Linked DNA regions of Homo sapiens. The protein of the gene in region 4 interacts with the protein of the main gene of each other region in a pairwise test. Each region holds a gene or a part of one and is shown on either strand. Other genes may lie near its edges.

Region 1 (6,029 bases), on a different chromosome or scaffold from region 4:
CTGCTCTGGCTGCTATGACAAAATTCCACAGATTGGGTGGATTGAACAACAGAAATCTGTTTCCTCATAGTTCTGGAGGCTGGGACGTCCCAGATCAAGGTGTCAACAGGGCTGATTTTGCTTAAGGCCTCTCTCCATGGCTAGCAGATGGCCGCCTTCTTGCTGCATTCCCACTTGGTCTCTCCTCTGTGCGCGCATCCCTGATGTCTCTTTTTATGTCCAAAGCTCCTCTTATAAGGACTCCAGTCAGATTGGGTTAGGGCCCACCCTAAGCGTCTCATTTTAACATAATCAACTCTTTAAAGGCCCTGTATCCTAATACAGTCACATTCTGAGGTACTGGGGGTTAGGACTTCAACATATACATTTTGTGGGTTGGGGGAAGAGCATAGTGCAGACTGTAACAGGACCCAACATGCAGCACCTATGGCACCCTTGGGGTGCCTTACTTTTTCATCACTTGTTAATCTGGTAGCCTATGTTAGCAGGTGCCTTTCAAGTGGGAAGGGGTTTTCTTCCCAGTTGCACTAACAGAGCCTTTGATTCAGTTCAGCAAACATCTGTTGAATACGTACTGCCCACAAACCAGAGTCAAGAGTTGGGAAAGAACAAGATAGTATGGTTTTTATTTGTTCATTCCAAGAACAAGAGGAGGAATGAGCAAGACATGTTGTAACTCTTGTGATGTCTACACCCCAGTGAAAAAAAGAGACTCCTAAACAGGTGTCTCCTGCAGCACTGGGGTGTGTTTCAGTGCTGCAGGACCCTGAGGAGGGTGGGTGATGGCTCAGGCAGGAGGATATGGGTGGATTCTAAGACAGGAGGATTCTAGGCAAGACTCACTTTGAAGGATGCATAGGGACTGGAAAAGCAGAGGGAAGGGAAGTGAACAGAAGAGTTTTCCAAATCCCTTTCTTATTAAAGTAGGGATAATAATTAGACAAGATCAAGCATGTTCCAGGTAGTATGGCCATAGACAGGGATAATAATTAAAAGCCTCCGAGGGTTGTTTTGAGGATAAATGAGACAGTATATCCAAAAAACTTAGCAAACTATCAAACCCTTTACAAGTATATGATGCTATCATCAGCAGCAGGGAGTGGGGGGAGAAGAAGAGAGCGATGGTCAGGATGGGGGCAGTAAGTGTGCCTCACACGCCTCAGGCCCCTGACACTGCTTTGCACAGTGCTTTATGCCCAGCAGGTTCAATAAATGCCGATTGAGTAAATGAATGTCAGAAGCAGCCCCAGGCACCTGATCAATACATACATGCAGGCCTCCCGCTGTGGGCTCCAAATGGGAAGAGGGCTCAGTTGGTTTTGCAGAATACAGCATCAATATGACATATGCTTCATTACCTTAGAACAGGAAGATTTGCTGCGTGGTGGCATTCCATGTCACCCCACATGGAATTAGGCACTTTGCTTTTCCCCGAGGCTCCAGAGTGATGGTGGTTGGTAGGACATGATCCATATTCTTCTACTAAAGCTGGAAGAGTGGGTGTGTCAGACAGGGATGAGAGTGTGGAGATTGGGCAGACCCTCTTCCACCATCCTCTCTGACCCATTGCTGGAGGTGTGCCCTGTTCATTGATTGGACATGGCACCACATTCATCCCAAATGGCATCAATTGGTGGTTTTCAATTTGCAGTAGCAAAGTACCTGGAAGTCATGTGCTTTGTATGAAACACCTTGGAATGCTGATAAGTTTAATTCTATTCTGTAAAAGAGGAAGACTTTTGTTAGCTGAAAAGCCAACTATATTATCCATGCATTATGCTTCAGTCACAACCAAAACTCCGGCTGTCAAGTTCATCAACTCCTGATGCCTCCCAAGTCTGCTCCTGAGCCCCTCTGGTCCCTTTTCTCTGTGAATATGCGACACCAGCCTCCCAGAGCCCCACGCAGAAATCCTAGCATTACCCTCAACTCCTTATCTCCCTGCTTGTCCCATACCCACTTTTGCCCCACACCTATCCAAGGACCAAGGACCATGAAATTGACTTGCAGTTTAGCTCCTAATTCTGAACAGGTCTCTCCATCCTCGTTTCCACTATCTTCGTTCAGATGACCACAATTTCTAACCTAAATTACAGCCAAAACATCACTCTCCTCTGAGCTCTCTTCTACACCATACACTTTCTAGAACACCAGTCCAATAGGGTCATGTCTCTGGGCCCAACCTCTCAGGGACTCTCCAGCTGACAAGACACAATCTGGCCTGTAAATGTCCCTGCAGTTTAATTATCCTCAACGTTACTGCCATACCCTACATTTTTGGCCAAACAGAATTGTTTGCTGTTTGATGATTTGATACCATGTCATATTGTCTGTCTGGAACATCCCCCCACCCCTCTCATTTAGCAGGCTAAGTCCTCCTTCTACTTCATCCCAGATGATACCCACTTCAGGAAGTCTTTCCCTTCTGTGGGATGAGATGCCCATTCTGCAGGGCTTTCACTCCCTGCATCCTGCCAAACCTCATCATCTCTTACCTGGATTCCTGCTACAGCCTCCCAGTTGGTGTCCCGCTTCCACTCTGGGCCCCTCCTCTCCGTTCTCCACAGTGCTGTCAGAATCACCTATTCGAAAGGCGAATCTGATCATGTGGTTCCTGCTGCCCTTAGGATCATGTATAAACTCCTAGCATGACTTTTAAGGCCCTCTATGATCTTGCCTATTGCAACCTCCCCAGACTCAACCCTTGCCAGGTCCCTCTGCATCAGCTATCCAGAATCTCTTTGAGGCCCTCCACCTGCTGTCTACCTCTCTACCTCTGTGCTTTGCATATACTGCTTCCAATGTCTAGACCTTCTGCTGACTCCTAGTTCTTTACCTGGCTAATTCCTACACATCCTTCAGTTGTTTGTCTGTTGAACATCACTTCCTCTAGAAAGCCTTCCCTGAATACCTGAACTAGGTTATGTATCTCTCTCCCTGTTCCATTTCCTACTCCCTATCACCCTTAGATGTAATTGCTTGATTAATTGGCTGTTGTTTCTCCTAGAATGTGAGCTACAGAACCATGTATATTTTGTTCCTGCCTATATTTCTAGAACTATATAGAACAATGCTTAATAAATATTTATAGAATCAAGAATGAATGAATACCCATTTCTGTTTCGATGACTAGAAGGTAGCAAGCCTGGTTAACTGAAGTGTGTGGTGCATGGGTCGTGCTTAAGAAGTGTTTGTTGAATGAATAAATAAATGATGGATCAGCTCTGTTCAAGCTCATCTTATTATGCATTTTTAAAAAATTGTGTTTGCTCATTTGTCCTACCAGCTGTAAAAACTTGCTAGCAAAAGAGTGGCAGAAGGCCCAACATTTTTAGAAAATTCTTAGCCGTAAACCTTAAAATCCCGAGTTGGAAAATTCTCATTATTAAATGCCAGGAGTTGGTCTTCTTCCTGGAGACCTCTGCAAGAGGCCCTCTCACTGACACCTTGTGTCCATTTTTCCTGGCCAGAGCCTGGCCACCCAGTGGCTCCACCGCCCTGATGGATCCACTGAATCTGTCCTGGTATGATGATGATCTGGAGAGGCAGAACTGGAGCCGGCCCTTCAACGGGTCAGACGGGAAGGCGGACAGACCCCACTACAACTACTATGCCACACTGCTCACCCTGCTCATCGCTGTCATCGTCTTCGGCAACGTGCTGGTGTGCATGGCTGTGTCCCGCGAGAAGGCGCTGCAGACCACCACCAACTACCTGATCGTCAGCCTCGCAGTGGCCGACCTCCTCGTCGCCACACTGGTCATGCCCTGGGTTGTCTACCTGGAGGTAGGTGGGCCCCCTGCTTGCTCCAGCACTTTCTCCAGCAGGGCCCTGCACTGGACACTGGGGACTCTAGCTCCCCACTGGCTTTTACCAATGAGTTTCCTGGTGCTTCCCCAGGTGGTTTTTCCTTCACTCTGGGCTTACTTTTTCTCCTTACGAAATGGGTAGATTGTTTCCTTAATAATCCCAACTACCATTTGTAAAGTGCTTACTAAGTGCTGGGCCTCACGTAGGGACTTTAAATATAGCATTTTCCTATATAACCCTCACAGCAGCTTAGAGGCTGGCATTATTGCCACCATTTTGCAGTTGATAAACCAGGTGGTCAGAGATGTTAAGTAACTGCTGCAGCATCACACGGCTGGCAAGTCCAAGCTGGAATTCTGGCCTCAGAGTTAGTTCCTTAGGTCATATTGGAAATAGGAGTAACCGGCAAGGATCCCCAAGGAGGGGCATGTTTATGCTCCCAGGCCCCTGAAACCTTCACTCCCATCTCCCCACTTCAGAAATGGGTCTGCTGCTTTATGCTCCCCATATCCCCTCTCCTTCCCACAGCTTATCCTGGGGCCCTGTCCAGGACCTGCAGGTAGAGGCTGCCATGGACTGTGCTGTAGCCCTTTTGTTAGGAAGAATTGTGTAGTCACTCATTTCTTGGCCCAGCTCTGCACCTCAAAATGGGGAGTAGGCAGCACAGTCTAGACACTGTGCCTGGTGCATTGCTGACACAGACCCAGTGAATACTCTTGGTAACCCTGGGAGTCCATGCTACTCTTCTCACTTTACAAAATAGGAAACAGGCCGAGCACGGTGGCTCACGCCTGTAATCCTAGCACTTTGGGAGGCCGAGGCAGGCAGATCACGAGGCCAGGAGTTCAAGACCAGCCTGGCCAACATGGTGAAACCCCATCTCTACTAAAAATGCAACAATTAGCCAGGTGTGGTGGCATATGCCTGTAATCCCAGATACTTGGGAGGCTGAGGCAGGAGAATTGCTTGAATCTGGGAGGCAGAGGTTGCAGTGAGCTGAGATCATACCATTGCACTCCAGCCTGGGCGACAGAGCAAGACTCTGTCTCAAAAAAAAAATAAAATTAAATTAAAACAAAAACAAAATAGGAAATAGAAGCTTTGGAGAAGTTGCCTTTCTTCACCCAGGTCACAGGGAGAAATGCTGATGGAGAAATCCCAAAGCAGATATTATTCTCCAGGAAGACACCTTCAGAGCCAGCGAGCAGATGTGGGAGCATTTAGGGATCATCGGTGGGCACAAGCTGGATCCTGCCCCTTTCTCTGCCCAGCTTTCTAGGATGGCATGTCCAGGACTCAAGCAATCTGGGAGTCTAGGTGCATGGGAAGGCATGGGATCAGGCATTTAGGAAAGTGCCGGTGCTCTGCCCACTGAACCGTTACCTTCCTTCCCTGAGCAGGAGAGGAATTGACCAGTGCCTCTGAGGCCATCCCTGCCTGAGAGGGAAGGGGTTGTTGAAAGAAAATGAGAAAGCTTTGTAGGTTTAAACAGGGGAGAAATCTAGATGAGGACGCTCAGGTGAGGAGGCGAGACTGGTGGAAAGTGGCACACCTCCCTGTCCCTGGGCCCCCAAGGGGCTCGTGCGCTTACTGTTCTCACCACCACCCCGGGCCCAAGGGAGCTCTGATCCATCACCCCTTGGCTTCCTTTACTACAGCCAATGCAGGCTGCAACTTCCAAAATGACCTGACTGGATATTAAGGAAGAACCAAAAGGAAACACAAATACAAAACCACATAAAAATATTCAGTTGACACAGGCCAGGAGTCCAATTCCCCCTGGATCCATGTTTATGAGGGCCCCTAGACTCTGTCCATGCCTTCTTAATTCTTACGCTTGATCCCCTCCTTCTTCCCTCTTCCAAAGGAGGGTCCTAGGTCTCAGACCATAGGGAAAAATGGTAGAGCAAACAAACTCTCTGTGCCTCAGTTTCCTCATCTGGAAAATGCAGATAATAATAGTATCATACATCATAGCATTGTTGAGGATCGAATTAGTTGATGTATGAAAAGTGATTAGAATGATACATGGCTCACAGTGAGCACTGTGTAAATGTCAGCCATGGCGATGATGATAAAGATGAAGATGACAATAGACATCCAGCACTGCTCCACATAGGGAGGACTCTGTCTTTCCTATTCACCGCCCCCTTGGGATAAAGAGGAAGGAGAGAGTACTCCCTATGTTCGCCCCAGGCAAGTAGGTACCCTCTTCCCAG
Region 2 (6,029 bases), on a different chromosome or scaffold from region 4:
ACAGTATGGAGATTCCTTAAAGAACTAACGTAGATCTGTCATTTGATCCAACAATCCCACTCCTGGGTATTTACCCAGAGCAAAAGAAGTCATTATATGAAAAAGACACTTGCACAGGCATGTTCATCGCAACACAGTTTGCAATTACAAATTACAAAAATATGGAACCAGCCCAAACCAATGAGTGAATAAAGAAAATGTTACATATATATATATATATATATACACACACACACACACACACACACACACACACACACACACACTACTCAGCCATAAAAAATATACACTACTTGGCCATAAAAAGGGAACAAAATCATGGCATTCTCAGCAACCTGGATGGAGTTGGAGACCATTATTCTATGTAAAGTAACTCAGGAGTGGAAAACCTAATATCATATGTTTTCAATTATGAGTGAGAGCTAAGCTATGAGGATGCAAAAGCCTAAGAATGATATAGTGTACTCTGGGGACTCAGGGGGAAGGGTAGGGGGTGGCAAGGGTTAACAGACTACATGCTGGGTACAGTGTTTACGGCTTAGATGGTGGGTGCACCAAAATCTCAGAAATCACCACTAAACAACTTATCCATGTAACCAAACACCACCTGTTCCCCAAAAACCTATTGAAATAAAAAAAGTAAAATTAACCATCATACCAAAAGGAGCAGAGGGATGATCATCCCAGGCAAAAGGAACTGCAAGCACAAAAAGCCTTGAAACAGGAGCAAGCTTGATTACAAGAGCAGATAGGCAGCCAGTTTCACTGGAACATAGTATGAGGAGAGTTTTACAAGATTCATTTGAAGAGATAGGCAGAGGCTAGATGATACAGGCCATGGTAAGGAGTTTGGATTTTATTCTGAAGGTGTTGGAAATCCATTGAGAGTTTTAAGTGGAGAGTGATATGATCTGATTTACATTTTTTTTTTTATTTTTAGAAACAGGATCTTGCTCTATCGCCCAGGCTGGAGTACAGTGGTTCATTCATGGATCACAGCAGCCTCGAACTCCTGGGCTCTAGCAATCCTCCCGCCTCGGCCTCCCAAGTAGCTGAGGCCACAAGTGCACACCACCATGCCTGGCTAATTTATTTTATTTTATTTTTTTATAGAGACAGGGTCTCACTATGTTGTCCAGGCTGGTCTGGAACTCTTGGTCTCAAGCGATAGTTGTGCCTCAGTCTCTCAAAGTGCTGGGATTATAGACATGAGCCACTACACCAGATCTGATGTAGATTTTGACAGATCACCCAGCTACTCTGTATAGTAGGTCTTTTGAGGGGCAAGTATGAAAGCAGAGTGATAAATTACACAGATATTGCAGTCAACTAGCTAAGAGACAATGTGGCTTAAATGAGGATAGGAGCATTGACAGTATATTTTAAAATATGCAAAAGGACCCAGATATGCATGTTCTTCTCCCTTCCTCTTTGACTCAATTATACCCACGACTTTAGTCACTCACATACTTCCATTAGTGGAAGTAAACACAAATCTCTGCTGAATTAACTGTCTATTGTGTTGAATCAGTAATATGTGCTTAATGTACACTTTAGATGAAATGATTATATTAGTTCAAATTATTCATCATTTTAGTTTTTATACTTAATAATCACATTAAACACAGTCGTACTCTATCAATGAACATCTAGAAAATGAGAGGGAAAGTAAAATACCTTTCATCTAAAGGAAAGGAAGGAAGGAAGAAAGGAAGGAATGAAGGAGGGAGGGAAGGAGGAATGATTTTTTTATATTAGAATCCTAAAATAAGAATTACAGAGTTAAAAGAATCCTAAAATAAGAAATCATCAAAACTGTACAGGTCACAGCCCTGCCAGCAACTTGCTGTGTGACCCTGGGCAAATCACTTGATATGACCCAGATCTTTATTTCCTTTATCTGTGAAATGGTCAATTAAACTAATTGTTCTAGAATGTCTCTTCTGTTCCCCAAATTATTATTCTAGAAACCACTCTCTTTACCATGTTTTAGGAGTGTTATCCACCACATACAATCCAACCTCTGGAGACAGGAGATAAACTGTGAATCCTTATTTTCAGATCAGAAAGTTGGGGGTAAATAGAGGCTAAATGGTTTTTCAAGATCCCTCAAGCATTTGATAGTATAGTTTGTTTTATAATGAAAGATCTTATGACAGATATCCAGATAAGAAACTTTTCTCGTTCCTTTCAGCCCCCAAAAGTGCTTTCAAAATTGGATACAACAAGGAAAAAAATATATACCCCAATTCTCTTATGTAGTCTGCCTTTTGCTTGGTAACTTGAGATGAGTTTGACTATCTATAATCAGTGCATAACAAGTCATCCAGATAAGCTAGTAAGATATAAGGTCTTATATTGAGCCCTAACAAGTGCTAACCACCTTATTTTTTTTTTTATAGCTGTACGATTCTGTGACCGGTGTCATCTGATCAAGCCAGACCGCTGCCACCACTGCTCTGTCTGTGCTATGTAAGTGACGGCCATATTTCCCCTGGGCTGGGCTTGGCCACTGAAGGTTTCCTAGACAACAAAATGACTGATCCTAACATGTAATCATACCTAGATAAGAGCATTTCCTTTCAATTATAATGAGCATATGCCAAAACCCCTCACACGGATGATGATGATCCAAGCTACTCTAAAGATAAGTAAGAGAAGTAAGACCACATTTTAAAAACTAACATTGTATTTGTGGACAGTTTTAGACTTACAGATTTATTGTGAAGATAGTTCTTGTATGTCTCACACCCAGTTTCCCTTGTTGTTAACATCTTATATTTGTATGATACATTTGTTACAATTAATGAACTAATACTGATACATTATTTTTAACTGAAGTCTATATTTAGATTTCCTCAGTTTTTCCATAATGTCCTTTATCTGTTCCAGGATCCCATCCAGGATACCACATTACATTTAATAGTGATGTCTCATCTCCTTAGCTTCTCTTAGCTGTGGCAGTATCCCAGACTTGTTTTTGATAACCTTGACAGTATTTAGGATTAATGGTCAAGTAGGTCATAGAGTGTCCCTTGATTGAGATTTGTTTGATGCTTTCCTCATCATTGTTAGACTGGGGTAATATGATCTGGGGGAGGAAGACGACAGAGTAAGGTGCCATTCTCATTACATCATATTAAGGGTACCTATAAACATGACTTATCACTGAAAGGTTAATTTTGATCATCTGGCTGAGGTAGTATGTCAGGTTTCACCACTGTAAAATTGTTCTTCCTTTCTATGCTTTACTCTTTGAAAGGAAGTCACTATGCACAGCCAACACTAAAGGAATGGAAAGTTATGCCCTCCATCCTTGAAGGTGGAGTATCTACACAAATTATTTCAAGTTATTTTGCTTGGGACATTTATCTCTTCTCTTCATTTATTTATTTATTCAATCATTTATTTATATCAGTATGAAAGCATAAATATTCATTTTACATTTTGCATTATAACCCAATACTACTTTTTTGTTGCCCAAATTGTTCCAGCTTTGCAAACCCCATTTTTATATTGATACATGTAATGCCTTTTCTCTTGAGTACTTATTCCACCCATATTTTTCTTACCCTTGATTCAGATAGAGGCTATAGCCATATATTTTCTTCTGTATTTTTATTAAACTAAGTATTGAATAAAATGATAGGAGACATCTTGAACCTTTTCTCTGTATTAATAATCTGGAGTTTCCAATCCCTTTGAAAGGTTGGACTTATAAGCATGTAACTTGCTGCTGGCATGATCCTATAAAGTGTTGTTGTGATTACCTCATCCTAGAAATAACTGAGGGCCACAGTTTTGGAGTCACTATAGTGGAAATCTGAGAATGGGTGTTATTAGAACCATGTAAAAATACTGGTGAAACCTTGAGTTTAATTATGAGATGTTGCTTCATTTCCATAGCCTCACTTATCACACTGTATTTTGTCCCCTTCGTAGGTGTGTGTTAAAAATGGATCATCACTGCCCTTGGTATGTCTGTTTGATTCATTTCTCTCCTCTAAAGGGGTCAAAGTTGCTCAATTATATGCACTTTTCTAAGCATAGTTGTCACATGCCTGTTTCTGCCACCATAATTCACTGGGTTTTATATTTCTGTAGGGGACAGGGGAGGGGTAACATTTTAAATAAAGAAAAAATATAACACCAAAGGTATGGTAGTGAATTCCTGGAGTTACAAAGCTAATGGTCTCATATTCATTAACTTTAGCAATTGAGCATAGTAATGAAATACAGCACAAACATTTCTCCTTTTAACATTACACAATTCAGTTCTGTTTCTAGTTGGCTTGATGTTTGAAATATTCTAGAATGTTAAATTCAGCAATTTTCCAAATTTTGTATATCAGACCCTGCGGGCCAGTCTGAAATCACCTAACTACAAAAAGAACATGCCACAACTGTACCAAATGTAGCTGCTAAAACTGTAATACATTTTTAGCAACCAGGATCCAGGTTTGCTTGGATGTGTCACGAACCAGTCCAGAGCTATTAGGCAGGCCAGGTGTTTCTGTGCCTGTAAATGAAAGAATAAACAAGTGAGACATGAACTTGTTTTATCCAGTTTGTTCTTATTAAGGGACTTCTATCTCTATTGGGCTTTTACACGACACATAATGAAGCAGCAGAACTAGCATTATTCCATTGCTTAGTTCACTTATGTATCAGTGTGCTCTCAATCAAGAGGTCCTGATGTCAAATTAGTTTTTCTTTTTTTTTAGGGTTAATAACTGCATTGGATTTTCCAACTACAAATTCTTCCTTCAATTCTTAGCTTACTCTGTTCTCTACTGCCTGTACATTGCTACGACAGTCTTCAGCTATTTCATCAAATACTGGAGAGTAAGTTAAAAATATCCTGAAGGGTCCCCTAGAACAAATGCACACCCACTCCAACTTGTGACATTGTTCACCCTCTATCTTTTTACATTTTTAAATAGCTAATACTGTTGAAGTAACTGGAAGAGAAGGCACTAAAAACAGGTTTTCCATATTGAATACTCTGAGATTTCGGAAGCTGTTATTTAAAGATTCTAGTTAAACAAGTTTCTGTCATACACGAGAATCTTGCTAAGGCCTTTGGGTACCTAATCTCTTGACTCCTATTGATTCTTTACAATGTATTTCTCCAGGTGAGTTTTAAAGTTCCACTTCCTACCAGTTATAGATTTGAAAAATGTTGAAACTAATTTTAAATCCCTAGTTTCCTAAGAAAAAGGCTAACAAATCACTCCCCTGTTGTTAGAAAATACTTCCTAATTCCCTATTCAAAGGAGAGTTGCAGAATTCCTATGAGACAGAAAGATATACTGACCTATCTCACATAATGGGGAGGGGTTTTTTTGTTTGTTTTTTAACTTTGTTTGACAAACACTGGGTTAGCAATTAGGAGAACTGGGATCTAATACTGGATCTCTTACCTGCTTCACTGGCTCATTGCCAAGATCAAATGAAACAGACGTTGAAAGTGCTTTACCTTTAAAAATGTGAGTCTAATAATTATAATGAAATCTCAAAAAAAGTTATTTCATCTACTTGAAGATATAAATCATATCCAACTACTTCCAAAAAAGAAAAACAAACTTAAGGCAGATTTTTTTATTTACATATGTGTACAAGGTCTGGCAAAAGTATAGTGAAATATGTTCTTTTTAAATGTCATACTAGTGGACTCCAGGAGATATCCCTTCCCCACAACTCCAGTACAATTACTAAGACATCCATGATGAAGGCTGTCCAAACTGAACCTGAATATCAAAAGACAGATGTGGACAGAGCTACTAGTTATTTAGGGATTGCACAAAAGCCTATATAACATGAATATCTCACCTCAAATGGAGACATAAAGCCGTAGAGAAAGAACATGAATTCAGTGACCAGAATATAGACTATAATAAACTGAAGAAAAAAGGAGAAGGGTAAGGCAATAGGAACCTAAATAGCCAAGAATATTTAAATTATTAATCAGTGCATTGATCCCTAGTAATATAGAAAAGATAGTGTAGAAAATTATAGTGATGTGTGTT
Region 3 (6,698 bases), on a different chromosome or scaffold from region 4:
CAGGACTTACAGCAAGGGGAACTTGGGCAAGTTACAGACTGTCTATGCCTCAGTTTCTTTATCAGCAAAACAGAATCATCCCATAAACTATAAGGTCGATGGTATCAGCGGGTCCCCAAACTGACTGCACATCTGAGTCATGTTAACAAACACATTCCAGGCCCCACCTGAGCCCTCTGAATCAGAATCCCTGTAAGGAGGACGATGAACTTGAATTTGCACTGACTTTCCCAGCTGTTTCTTACTCTGATCAACTTGGGGGTAGGACCCATTGAGCTGCATCACATCATTCCAAAGCCAAAACACAACAGCAGGACAAGAATATTTTCAAGGCAGTCTCTAAAGCAGAGGAGAAACTGTTGAGGGAACCTAGAAGTAAAGGAGATCTGGCTTGCTGGGCTCCATTTGAACTTTGAGTACAACAGAGACATGAGCCCTTTGGGACACATGCCTGAGGTAGTGACAGTCCAGCTTTGGAAGAGTGGAAGCCCTAGTTCCAAATTCAAGCATGCTTTGAGTATAAATTAAGTTTACCTCTTTTTGCACAGCAACATGGCCAATCTTTCCTAAGCTGCTCAGCTTACAAGAAAAGGAATCATACTGCTAAGAATTCAAACTTCAGCAGTCATAGGTAAGTAAGGAAGTCTTATAAACCTATTCTAGCCACCTAACCAGAAACTCGAAATTTAGCAGGTTCTTTCAGTTTCAGGACAGTTGTGTTCACTAGATCAGAGGCATTGAGACATGAAGAACAGACCCTTAAAAAGGGAAAGTGTTCCCTTCAGTTTGAGGACATCACTGGAACATTAGGGAAGTGGGAACACAGCTGCTCACTCTACAGTGTGGGTTGCCTTTGTGTCTGGAATGTGTCTGACGTCCTGATCCCTGTGCACATTTCAGGGAGCCTTGGGAGGACCCCGAATCACTGATGGAATTGGGCAGTGCATGGAGATGGCTCAGCAGGATGAGGGTAAATGCAGGGGCAAGTCCAGGTCATACTGAGAGACAATGAGTGGCGCTGATGAGGACAAAGATAAAATCAAAAGTTTGTGCTTCATCTTCAAAAACTCAAGCTGATAACAAACTTGGCCTGATGAGAAATAATAAGTATTTTTCTATTTACATGAGAATTTAATCTCAAAACAGAAATCAGAAAAATATGAAGTCCAGGGCATAAAACCTAAAACTATTGCTCATATTTATTCTTTCTAAATAGAGCAAAGTGTACAATCTTCTCCATAAGACATACATTGTGGTTATAAAAAGGCAAAAGTCTTAGTGAGAATCATTGGTATTCCATAGAAGAGTGAATTAAACACAGCCAAGGGAAGACCCACGTCTCATACTTCTCTTGTATATTCCAAAGTTCCAGGGAAATTCCAGGTGATAGAGGTTATTTCCCATACTGTTAAAGCAAGGTTTCAGACACTTCTGAATTTTGGTCCCAGTACTCTAGAAGGGCACACCTCTGTCCTGGAAAATAATACAGGAATGAATACTCTTCCCGTGACCCATTCTGGTCATTCTTCCAGCATCACAAAAACCAAAAAATGGAAATATGGCCAAATACGTGATTAGCTGTCCCTCATCTTCAGGTTTCTTATCTGTTACTTATAGATAATAGCATTACCTTAAGGATTATGATGAAGATACAATGTCCAAATATAAACACAGTTTTGAGCAAAATGCCTTGTACGAATTGGTCAATGAATAATTACTAAATATGTGAATATTTACTGGATTGTATGGATCCTATGAATAATTACTGAATAATTATTGTGATTGCTTTTATTGGCAGTGCTGAAAACTCATCCCTTTGTGACCTCAAGTAACCCATGACACTTTGTGAACCTGCAGTTTTTTCATTTAGAAACTTGACAGATTTTCATTCTGACACAGAATGTCAGGTCTCCCAGACCCTAGAAAATACATTGACTTAAAGCCTTTGATACATCTCAAAGCAGTATCCTTACAGTGTCACTGGAAGATGGTGCGGGCTGCAGAGAGGGATGCTTTCAAATGGGATTAACCAGTCCTCCTTCCTTCACTTCCACATGAATGCTGGGCAGCCCAGGGTCAACCCACTGCACCCTCAACTCAGGCAAGTCCAGCAGCCAATCTTAGGAGACCTGGGCTACAGAACAGTCTCTCAAGTTCCAGGCTCACAAAACCTAGGTGGGGATGAAAGCTGAGAAAGCGAAGAGGTGGTTCAGGGGATCACTCTTTCCTACTTGTTCCTCTCACCTCAAACTCACCTTCTACTGCACAGCAACACTGAGGATCGCCAACCAACCCTGACCATAACCTTGATCTTGCCATGTTCTGTTAGTGGAATGCAACCCAAAATCAATGGTGTTAGGTCATCTCAACAAAATATATATCAAACCATATTCCATAAGAACTGCTCGTGGCCCTGTTCTTTTCAGTATATGGGAAAACAAAATGGAAACAACAAAATAGCATCAGGTTTACAAAACTTCCCAAGATAGATGGTCACACATGTTTTCAGGAGACCTCTATATAAATGACTTTGATCACTTGATACCTTGAAAAGAGGTCTTGTGGCACTAGAATGACATCTATAAGTGACAAGTATAAAATGTAGTGCTCAGTGACATTAAAAAACAAATCAACCCACATAGAGGAAGAGCTTTGGACGTAGGGATGTCAAACTGGTCTAGAATGTAATGAAAACCCAAGAAGGTGCCCCAGTAAGAAAGAGGAAATCAATCTAACAATGGGATGCAGCAGCAAGAATACTGAGACAGGAAAGAAAATATTTTAAAAAAATGAATTATTCATTCACTTTCTAGTGGATACAGAAAAAACTGCAGAAGACCCAGAGGATATCAGGGCAGGCTAAAAGTTTGATATCTTACACCTGTGGAAAAGCCTTAAGCTCTGTTTTAACTGAGAGCAGGTGGGGTGACTTCATGACTACCATTAAGAAAATATAACCTGTTGGGAAACTGTTTCTGCCTTGATGATGTTGTACAGACAAGAGATAAACAGTGAGGAATATGCTTAGATGTATTGGGAAAGACATGGGTCTGTGGCATTGTCACAAGGGTACACGAATACTGAGAGTGAATGCTGAAGGAATGATCCCCATTGGTGGTGACCCTCAGGTGAAAGTAGGGTGCCTGTGTTTCAGCAAAGCCTGGGCAATTGGAATGCAGAGCTCCTAAGATTCCATGACACCCCCACCTTCTAATTCTGTTATTGCAACTGCAGACGGTTACCTGGCACGCTGGCCACATTCTGCCTCACTCTTATCAGAGTCTGAGCTACTGGCAGTGCTTTCAGCTCTGAGTTGAGGCACCTCGAACCTTGTTTTTGTGGTGAAGGATCCTAAAGTGCTGTGGGGAGTGATCACATTTTTCACAACAGTAAGTTAAGAATTTCAGTTACTGACATCCCTCAGTCCTGATTAAACCGATTTGATTTCACCAGTTTTTAACCCATCATATGTTTGGGTTTCTTCTCCCCAGTCCCTGACTCCACCTCTTCTGCCACAAACGTCAGCATGGTGGTATCAGCCGGCCCTTGGTCCAGTGAGAAGGCAGAGATGAACATTCTAGAAATCAACGAGACATTGCGCCCCCAGCTGGCAGAGAAGAAACAGCAGTTCAGAAACCTCAAAGAGAAATGTTTTCTAACTCAACTGGCCGGCTTCCTGGCCAACCGACAGAAGAAATACAGTAAGATCTATAGGCTCACCATCATGAAAGTGATGAATGATATCCTGTCTTCTCTCTGAGACACTAAATGCTCTCTCCATCAAAAATAATTTCATCCTTCCTGTACTTCTAGGAAAACAGAAATGGGTATTTTAACATTTTGTTAAAGTTGGAAGACAGAGGTGCCAAAGTATTTAGCAACTTTCCATGTTTGCAATCAGATGGGGGTGGAACTAGAGTTAAACTCACAGTTATTGATTTCTAACACAGGCACAGAATGACCTGTTTTCTCCAAGGGGCTCAATCATGTTTTTAAGAATCCTCTCTGTACCATATAAGATCCTGCAGACAAATAACATCTAGTCTGTTGTTCTAAATGTCTAGGACTAGTGAACTTTTATTCAGTTCAAGTTTCTGTTGAGGCCCAACAGGCAAAGCTCTGTTCTAGTGACTCTGAGGGGAACTTGGTGATAGTAGCCAGTACCTGCTCTGAGGGGCTTCAAGGGGAGTCTGCTCCTAATAGAACCTGTGCTATCTATAAGTGACAGCATCAAGAGCAGGGAGTAGGGGCCGTGCAACGTGGCTCACTCCTATAATCTCAGCACTTTGGGAGGCTGAGGCGGGCAGAGCACGAGGTCAGCAGTTTGAGACTAGCCTGGGCAACATGGAGAAACCCCATCTCCACTAAAAATACAAAAAGTAGATGGGCATCGTGGCGGGCAACTGTAATCACCACTAATCGGGAGGCTGAGGCAGAAGAATCCTTTGAACCCAGCAGGCAGATGTTGCAGTGAGCCAAGATTGCACTATTGCACTCCAGCATGGGTGACGGGGCAAGACTCGTCAAAAAACAAACAAACAAAAAGATAAATAAATCAAAAATAAAAATAAAAAGCAGAGAGTACCTTGGTGAGAGTGAAGTCCTGCTTCCTGGTGCACAGGCTCTTGTTCCTAAAGAGGAAAGATCACACCGGAGAATGTGTGGAAGCAGCAGTGCAGTGTGCAAAGCAGGGACCCTCAGCCTGTCTCCTGGGCTCCATCCAAGTTGCTTGTCTTGTCTGTCCCTCAGTTTCCTCATCTGTTCAGAGGGTACTACAATAATACCTACCTCTGTAAATTGCTGCAATGAATTACATGAGGTATTTCCTGTCAATCTCCTTGAACATTAATTGGCACAGTGGAAACACTATCTATTAGTTCTTCATTCTGATGTTTCTAAATTAACACAAACTAATGCTGTTTCTAAATTAACACAACTAATCTAAATCTTAATGCTGCCTCTCATACTAATAAAGTATTTGGGCATATTTCCTTCATGGCCTTATTGTCTTATATCTCACACTTTATGCTTCAGATATGATTCTTAAAACCATATCTGAATATTGATTTAAAAATGAAATATTTTTAAAGTCCTTGACATATTTGTCCTTGAAATACCCAGTAAAAGGGAAACCATCAGTCCCATAGTCCTAGGGGCCTTCCCGACTGTACAAGAAATCACTACTTCATGCCCCAGTGCAGTGTTTTAGAGGAGAGGCTGCAAGACTTGGGAAAGTGGCCCCGCATTCAGAGTCAGACCTCAGGGGCTGTGAGTTCTGACTCCACTTCGTTGTGGTTGAATCATCTTGTCAACTTCCTTGATGCGCCCTTGAGTTTCTCTTTCTTCGTCTTTAAATTTTGGAGGATCAGATGCCAGAAAGTCAGGAGACTGAAGAATAAAGATGTGGAAATCCCTGTCTAGACCCTGGTACTGGGGAGAGTTTTGTCCTTGGGATGGACCTGGCTCCTGCCCTGTAGGCAGTGACCACAGCAGCATGTCCAGCCTTCCACTGAGGCAGGCGTGTCTGTCTTTTCTCAGAGTATGAAGAGTGTAAAGACCTCATAAAATTTATGCTGAGGAATGAGCGACAGTTCAAGGAGGAGAAGCTTGCAGAGCAGCTGAAGCAAGCTGAGGAGCTCAGGTGAGGGGACCCCGTGGGGGGAGGGCAGGCGGGTAGGTGTGTAGATCTCTGAAGTACAGCAGCTCGGCGGGGAGAAATAAGAACGAAGCTGGGCCAGGGGAAGGGCAGAAATTGCCATGACAGGCTCATGACACACAAATATTTATCAGTGAACAAGGATAATAATAAGTTCTGTGTTGCAGTTGTTTCTTAGAGCCTTGTTTTCTCTTTTTCAAACAAGTAATTGTTGAGGTGAAATTTACATAACACAAAATTCACCAAAGGAGTGGGAACCACCCAGCAGCATTCAGTATAATCAAAATGGTGTGCTATCACCACCCCACTTACCCTTAGTGAGAATCACCTCCTGACTGACTGCGTCTTCTCATTCTTTCACTCAATCAATGTTGCCTTCTTGACCCTGTCCTTCTTTTCTTCTTTCATCTTTTCAATTCGCCCCATCTGCACCTGGCCTCATTTCTGTACATGGCTTTGTATTTAGTGGCCGCAAGATGCACTATGTGTATTTTCACATGGAAATGTCCATGGCCAGAGTGAGGAACTGAAAGGATGTCTTTTTGAAACGGAATTAGGAAGACACCTACTTTTGTTTACAGAAGAGAAAGATGAATGGAACATCATCGAGGATCTTGCAGGAGCCCTCTCTGATAGAGGGAAAGCCTGTAGACCATTTTCTATTCTTCCTCTTGGCCACAGTCATTCCTTTCAACATGTGCTGACCTTCTGCTTGGAGGTCTCCTTGAGGACATTGTCTCAGAAGTCTCTGTTGCAATATTTGAACGGATCACTCAACCCTTTCTACTCTTAAATTTTCTCTACCGTCTCACCTTAGGCAATATAAAGTCCTGTTTCACTCTCAGGAACGAGAGCTGACCCAGTTAAGGGAGAAGTTACGGGAAGGGAGAGATGCCTCCCGCTCATTGAATGAGCATCTCCAGGCCCTCCTCACTCCGGATGAGCCGGACAAGTCCCAGGGGCAGGACCTCCAAGAACAGCTGGCTGAGGGGTGTAGACTGGCACAGCACCTTGTCCAAAAGCTCAGCCCAGGTAAGGTGGC
Region 4 (6,029 bases):
CAAATTATATTGGTGCCTGAAACTGTACCCAAATACCACAAATGAGAAGTAGTAGCCTGCCTGGTGAAAACATTTTCTTGCCCCAGTTGGACTTTGATGCCATCAAGATTACTAACTGTTTGTTTCCTGTTTCCTTTGTCTGTGGAAACACAAATAAAAGGAGGACAGTGAGCCTTAGTTCTTCAGGAACCCCCTCTCCTTTGGAGACCCCACATCTGCCAAGTAGCACAAAGTTATCTCTCCTAGGTGTTAATATATAGCACAATGAATATTTTCAACTCTTTCAACACCATCTGCCATTCTCAGTAATTTATTCAACAACCATTTATTGAAGATGTTTGTAATGCACTGTACTAGGTACCAGGATGTCAAAGGTAAGTAAAACACCTTGCCCTTGAGAAGGTTGCAGAAAAGTAGAGGTATAAACAAGTAAACAGGTGCATTACCAATGCAGTAAATGCACCATGGAGGTGAGTGTGAGCCCCCCCCCCACACACACACACAAATTTTTTCACTCATATAAACACACAAAACCACCTCTACCCCATGAATGTAAACTTCCCCAAATTCCTCTTTGAAAGTTTTGAAGCAGACACCTGGAAAAAAATTAATGCTAAAACTCTCTAATTTTGTAATTTCAGTAGAGTTCATTGAGCTATACATTTGTGTGTTTGTGTGTATGTGTATTTGCGTGTAAATATTAGTTTTCATGTGGATCTTTATATAGCATTTTATTTAAGGATAAAATATTTTGAGCAACTGATGCTTTAGATAGTCAGGTTAATCTAATGCCCATAAAATTAGTTACTAATTCTAAAACCAGGTTTTAATTTGCAATGTCTTAAAACTAACATTCACTGATATATCCCAGTGATGCACAAAAAGTCTGGATTGCTTGTTTGAGAAGACAAGGACCAAGAGTCAATATGATTTAAATTCATAAAATCATGACATATTCCAAGAGTAGACATAGCCTTGGTTTTCAAATCCTATTTACTCAAAGGATTCCTTTAATCAGAGAGTGATAGGAATTTGGGTCTGTGATAGGAGTTTGGGTCTGTCTTTCTTTGTACTTTCAGTATGTAGAACAGGGCAGGCTCTGACATCAGACTGCCTAAATTTGAATTTAGGCTCTTCGATTTTCAAGCTGTGAGACTTCTCCAAGTCTCAATTTTCTTATCTGTAAGATGGGCATAGTAATAGTAACTTTTAGAATAGCAACCTTTCTTTAAGAATGTAAAATTGTTAGTGTATTCATTCATTTCATTTAGCTATCCAACATGTAGTTATTGAAAGTTTCATGTGTGCAAGATATTGGGCGGGTTGGGGATTGCAAAGATAATTCAATCACTGCAAATAGAGATCAAGATGGACTTAGAGTTTCAGACCATGGTCTTGGAATCCTGCATGTTTTTCTGACTGAATAAGCTTAATAGACATATATACATGGAATATAGTAAATAATGATTATGTAATCAGAGTTTATTGGTCTTTTGGAAACATAGAAATGGTAGGTCCTTGGTAATCCAGTCACAACATTTCCTTTTCCCCAAGCTTCATCGTTTTTGTGTTTTGTTTTGTTTTGTTTTTGAAACAGAGTCCCACTCTGTTGCCCAGGCTGGAGTGTAGTGGTGGGATCTCAGCTCACCGCAACCTCCGCCTCCCCCGTTCAAGTGATTCTCCTGCCTCAGCCTCCTGAGTAGCTGGGATTACAGGTGCCCAACAGCACATCTGACTACTTTTTGTATTTTTAGTAGAGTCAGCCTTTCACCGTGTCGGCCAGGCTGGTCTCCAACTGCTGAACTCAGGTGATCCGCCCACCTTGGCCTCCCAGGGTGCTGGGATTACAGGCATGAGACACCACGCCCGGCCAGCTTATTGTTTTCAAGCCATTTTAGCAAATCTTTGAAGTTTCTTCCACTTATTCACAAAAAAAAAAAAAATATTCTCCATAGATTTCCAATTTCCAGTGATTGCTGAGAGTCACAGGAAGTATTTTTAAAATGTACTCTTGCATTTATTTAATATATGCAAGTATATAGAGTAGGGAGCAAAGATGGAAGTTAATGATGAGGATATGCAATTGAGAAAAAGACCAATATAATCCATGCATTCCTGAAGCTTATATCCCAGGGAAACTTTCACCTCAAGGAATGAATCTATGTCCTCCTCTTGGGCTGAGAATAAAAACATCAACCATCTATACCTGTTTCTTAGCCATTCCATGAAAGGCTTTATTTGAGGCAACAAGAGCCAGGAATTTTGAGAGGAAACAAATCTTAAAAGGAGGCCTTGAGCAAGCGATGCTAGGAAAGGAAAGGGGGAAGGATGTCAGCAGCAGAAAAGCTGTGGGACCAAAATCAGATTAGTCAAACTGAAAAATAATAAATAAATAAATAAATAAATACACCAATTGGAGAATCTTGTAAAATATCCCACACAATTGTTCAATTTGGTGTTAAAGCTTAAGTGAATTTTTCAGTGAAACACTGATTCTAACCAGTCCAATTCAATCAAATTTTATCTTTCTGTCTGTATTAGTCTGTTTTCACCCTACTGATAAAGACATACCCAAGACTGGGCAATTTACAAAAGAAAGAGGTTTAATGGACTCACAGTTCCACGTGGGTAGGGAGGCCTCACAATCATGGCAGAAGGTGAAAGGTGTGGCAGCAGACAAGAGAAGAGAGCTTGTGCAGGGAAACTTCCCTTTATAAAACCATCAGATCTCATGAGACTTATTCACTATCATGAGAACAGCAAGGGAAATACCTGCCCCCATGATTCAATTATCTCCCACCAGGTCGCTCCCACAACACATAGGAATTATGGGAGCTACAATTCAAGATGAAATTTAGGTGGGGACACAGACAAACTATATCACCATCTCTATTCCCTTTGCACCATTTTGTCATGCTATCAAATGGGTTTCTGAACTGCCAATTACTTTCTGTCTATATATATATGTGACTTTTTCACTGAAACATTTAGAAATGTACACTGTATATATATATAATCTATTTACAAAACATTTACAAAAACATAAATATTAATAAAAATGTAAAATATATATATAGTGTACATTTCTAAATTTCTTTGGACTTAATTTGGATATACCGTCAAAGCCCTAATATCTTATCTAATTTACCATTTAGGTAGACAAGTGACAGAACATACCTTTCTGTTTTTCAGTTGCTAACAAACAACTTTATAGAAGACCTTGAAGGAGATAATTCCTAGAGTCTAACACAACAACAGTCAGAATCTAAACTGGTTTGAAGGCAAAAGAAACTACCTTTTTAAAAATGCAAATGTCAACCTCCTCACTCCTTTTTTATTTAATACAATGATTAAGGCTTGGCCTACAGAGTCACTTATCCACATCCGCTCTATAAGAACCAGAAGCTCTTTGAACATGTAGGCAGCTCCTGATCTCAGGTTTTCAGATGCCAAGAATCAGCTGAGGTAGCAATGTCATGTTCCAGTAGCTTGTGATCACATGGCAACATCAAAGCTAAGGTAGGAACACCGCTCCTCAATGAGTTAAGTGTTTAGAGATGGTTGCCATCTGTTGTAGCTATTTGTTCCTAAATAGGTAAATGTAAAAATAACCAGGCATTCCTACAGCAATTCTCTTACAAAATAAATAAATAAATAAGTAAGTTCATTAGCACATTTTCTGCCAGCATTTTTAAACAGCAATCTAGGTAATTCTGACACAGATGGTCTAAGGACTACACTCTGAGATGCACTGGTGTGTATACAAAGCCTCTCTCAATCAACAGACTGATCAAGCAGTGATTCCCAGGAATTGAGTCTGGTGCCAGGATGACTACTTAAGAATATAGAATGTTAGAAGCTACCCTAGATTTACTGGAGCCCAGAAATCTGCTTATGAATCTGTATACTTAAAAGTTCTCCAGGAGATTCTAATAACACAGTCTGTGGTATTAGAGAGAGGGGGTTGGGTTTTAGCTTAACAAATCTATGAGTGGGACCTTATTCCACAATTTACTAGTGTCTAACCTTATGTAATGTCTTTGGTCTGTAAAACAGCTGTTGTGAGGATTAAATAAAGCAATACATGTTGAGAGTCTAGCATGTAGTAACCTGCTTGCCATTGTATGCCTAGCTCTCAGTAAAATATACAGAAGTAAAAATGTATGCTTCATGACTTTGAGAAACATATAATCTATTTACAAAAACAACATAAATATTAATAAAAATTTAAAATATGAGTTTATATTCTAAAGCTGTAACATGGTTGTACACATACACCAGAAAACACACAAGACACAATATTCAGAATAATAAAATAGAGAAGTGTAAAGATATAGGAACAATCATATAAAATTTTCTTGAAAATGTTTAATTCTTCTTTAGGTAACCTAATTCTCATTAAATCACTGAATTTTTATTTAGATTATAGAAAAATATTAACATCATGAGTGGCAATCAACTTGTATTTATTATTTTATTATTTAAAATGAGAGGTAGAAAAATAGTAGTGTATATCTCGGAAGGGGTTTCATAGGATATGCTTAAAGGGGCCCAAGACAACCCTGAAATTTTATACAGAAGGGTTGTTTATATGAATATGGATATTTCTGGGGAGAGATCTATAGCTTTCATTTTTCCAAAGGGTTTTGTGGCCCCCCCAAAATGTTAAGGACCATTGAAGATTGGTCCTTTTAGTACATTTTATGTGCGTCCTTATTTATGCCAAAGAAATACGACTCCTGATTGCATGCCAAATAATTTACTTGTTTGCTTTCTCTGAACTGTCCTCTGAGTCAGTTTTCCACAAGCTTTAACCATTCAAATATCCCAAGAAAAGAAGGAAGAGTAAGATTCAATTTAAGAAAACTCTAAAGCAGAGTTTCATGACCTCAGCCTATTCATATTCTGCAGATATCAGCATGGAAATTTATGTACATGTTTTAAAAGTTCCAGGGCAGAAATTAACTGATGATCATTTTTGAGTTTTTCCTTTTATTTTTTATCCATTGCTCAGTTGTTTGAATTATTTTCCATTAGTTCTGTGTTTCTTTTCTTCTCAGTTAGAAAAGTGAAGGAACTTCCCTGGAAGGATACAATTCAATTTTGCCAACTTGCATTTTGTCAACTTAGCAATTCTTTCATTTGTGTTTTATTTATAATGTGGTAACAACACTATTGATGTTACATGTTTTTATTTCTCTCTTTTTTTAGGTGTGTGTGTAATATTGACTGTTCTCAAACCAACTTCAATCCCCTCTGCGCTTCTGATGGGAAATCTTATGATAATGCATGCCAAATCAAAGAAGCATCGTGTCAGAAACAGGAGAAAATTGAAGTCATGTCTTTGGGTCGATGTCAAGGTAATGTTCATACCAAAATTCATTTCAAAGAATGATTTTAGTCTTTGTGCAAAAATGAAAAGTGAAGAAAACTCCTTATTAGGCAGCTATTCCATTTCCAAAATGCAGTGCTTATTTACAATGGATAGTAGAGTCTACTGTAGCATTTGTGTCGATTATAGGATTTTGAGGGGCTCTCAGCAACCGTCCAGATCTGTCTCTATACAATGGAACTGTATTGTCACAATGCCATAAACACAGAAGCCAATATTCACAAGATAGCAGACAATTTTCTTGCAAAGGGAAAAAAGAAACTCAAAAACATTTTTAAAACGAATCTAAGAATTTATTAGACATCCTTGAAACTAAAAGCAAATCACTTCATTTTTATGTATTGATTCAGTACAAATATTTAAAATGCATTTTTAAAAGCAAGAGGTACTAGAATGTTCTATTTTCTTTCTTGTTCAGAAACAAGCATTTTCTTAGGTTTTGTTACTCCTTTGACCAATTTTTCTCAGTTATAATTGTGAATCTTCTTCTTCTCCCAAACTTTAGAAAGCTCTCTTCATTTTATTATTTGCTCTCAGACAGAAATTGACATTGTAAATCTGTCTTAGTATGATGCAGGTTGCTTAGAACTACAGTTGTAAAAATTCCTTAATTGCAATGAAGATATTGTTGGAGGAA

What was found.
Region 1: the proteins of TMEFF2 (region 4) and DRD2 interact in a two-hybrid assay, tested with the Homo sapiens proteins (one large-scale study listed by BioGRID and IntAct).
Region 2: the proteins of TMEFF2 (region 4) and ZDHHC15 interact in binary tests that used the Homo sapiens proteins (3 or more experiments, as listed by UniProt).
Region 3: the proteins of TMEFF2 (region 4) and NBPF19 interact in a two-hybrid assay, tested with the Homo sapiens proteins (one large-scale study listed by BioGRID).

What each region holds. Positions count from the first base shown.
Region 1 is NC_000011.10:113,422,124-113,428,152, reverse strand, and holds part of DRD2 (D(2) dopamine receptor), read left to right. Parts: intron 1-3,470; 5' UTR 3,471-3,501; coding exon 3,502-3,786; coding exon of another isoform or gene 3,787-3,790; intron 3,791-6,029. UniProt on the Homo sapiens protein: Dopamine receptor whose activity is mediated by G proteins which inhibit adenylyl cyclase. Positively regulates postnatal regression of retinal hyaloid vessels via suppression of VEGFR2/KDR activity, downstream of OPN5.
Region 2 is NC_000023.11:75,427,894-75,433,922, reverse strand, and holds part of ZDHHC15 (palmitoyltransferase ZDHHC15), read left to right. Parts: intron 1-2,402; coding exon 2,403-2,472; intron 2,473-3,942; coding exon 3,943-3,975; intron 3,976-4,724; coding exon 4,725-4,845; intron 4,846-6,029. UniProt on the Homo sapiens protein: Palmitoyltransferase that catalyzes the addition of palmitate onto various protein substrates.
Region 3 is NC_000001.11:149,472,407-149,479,104, forward strand, and holds the start of NBPF19 (NBPF family member NBPF19), read left to right. Parts: upstream 1-2,638; 5' UTR 2,639-3,389; intron 3,390-3,491; 5' UTR 3,492-3,526; coding exon 3,527-3,701; intron 3,702-5,538; coding exon 5,539-5,641; intron 5,642-6,473; coding exon 6,474-6,688; intron 6,689-6,698.
Region 4 is NC_000002.12:191,998,391-192,004,419, reverse strand, and holds part of TMEFF2 (tomoregulin-2 isoform 1 precursor), read left to right. Parts: intron 1-5,211; coding exon 5,212-5,360; intron 5,361-6,029. UniProt on the Homo sapiens protein: May be a survival factor for hippocampal and mesencephalic neurons. The shedded form up-regulates cancer cell proliferation, probably by promoting ERK1/2 phosphorylation.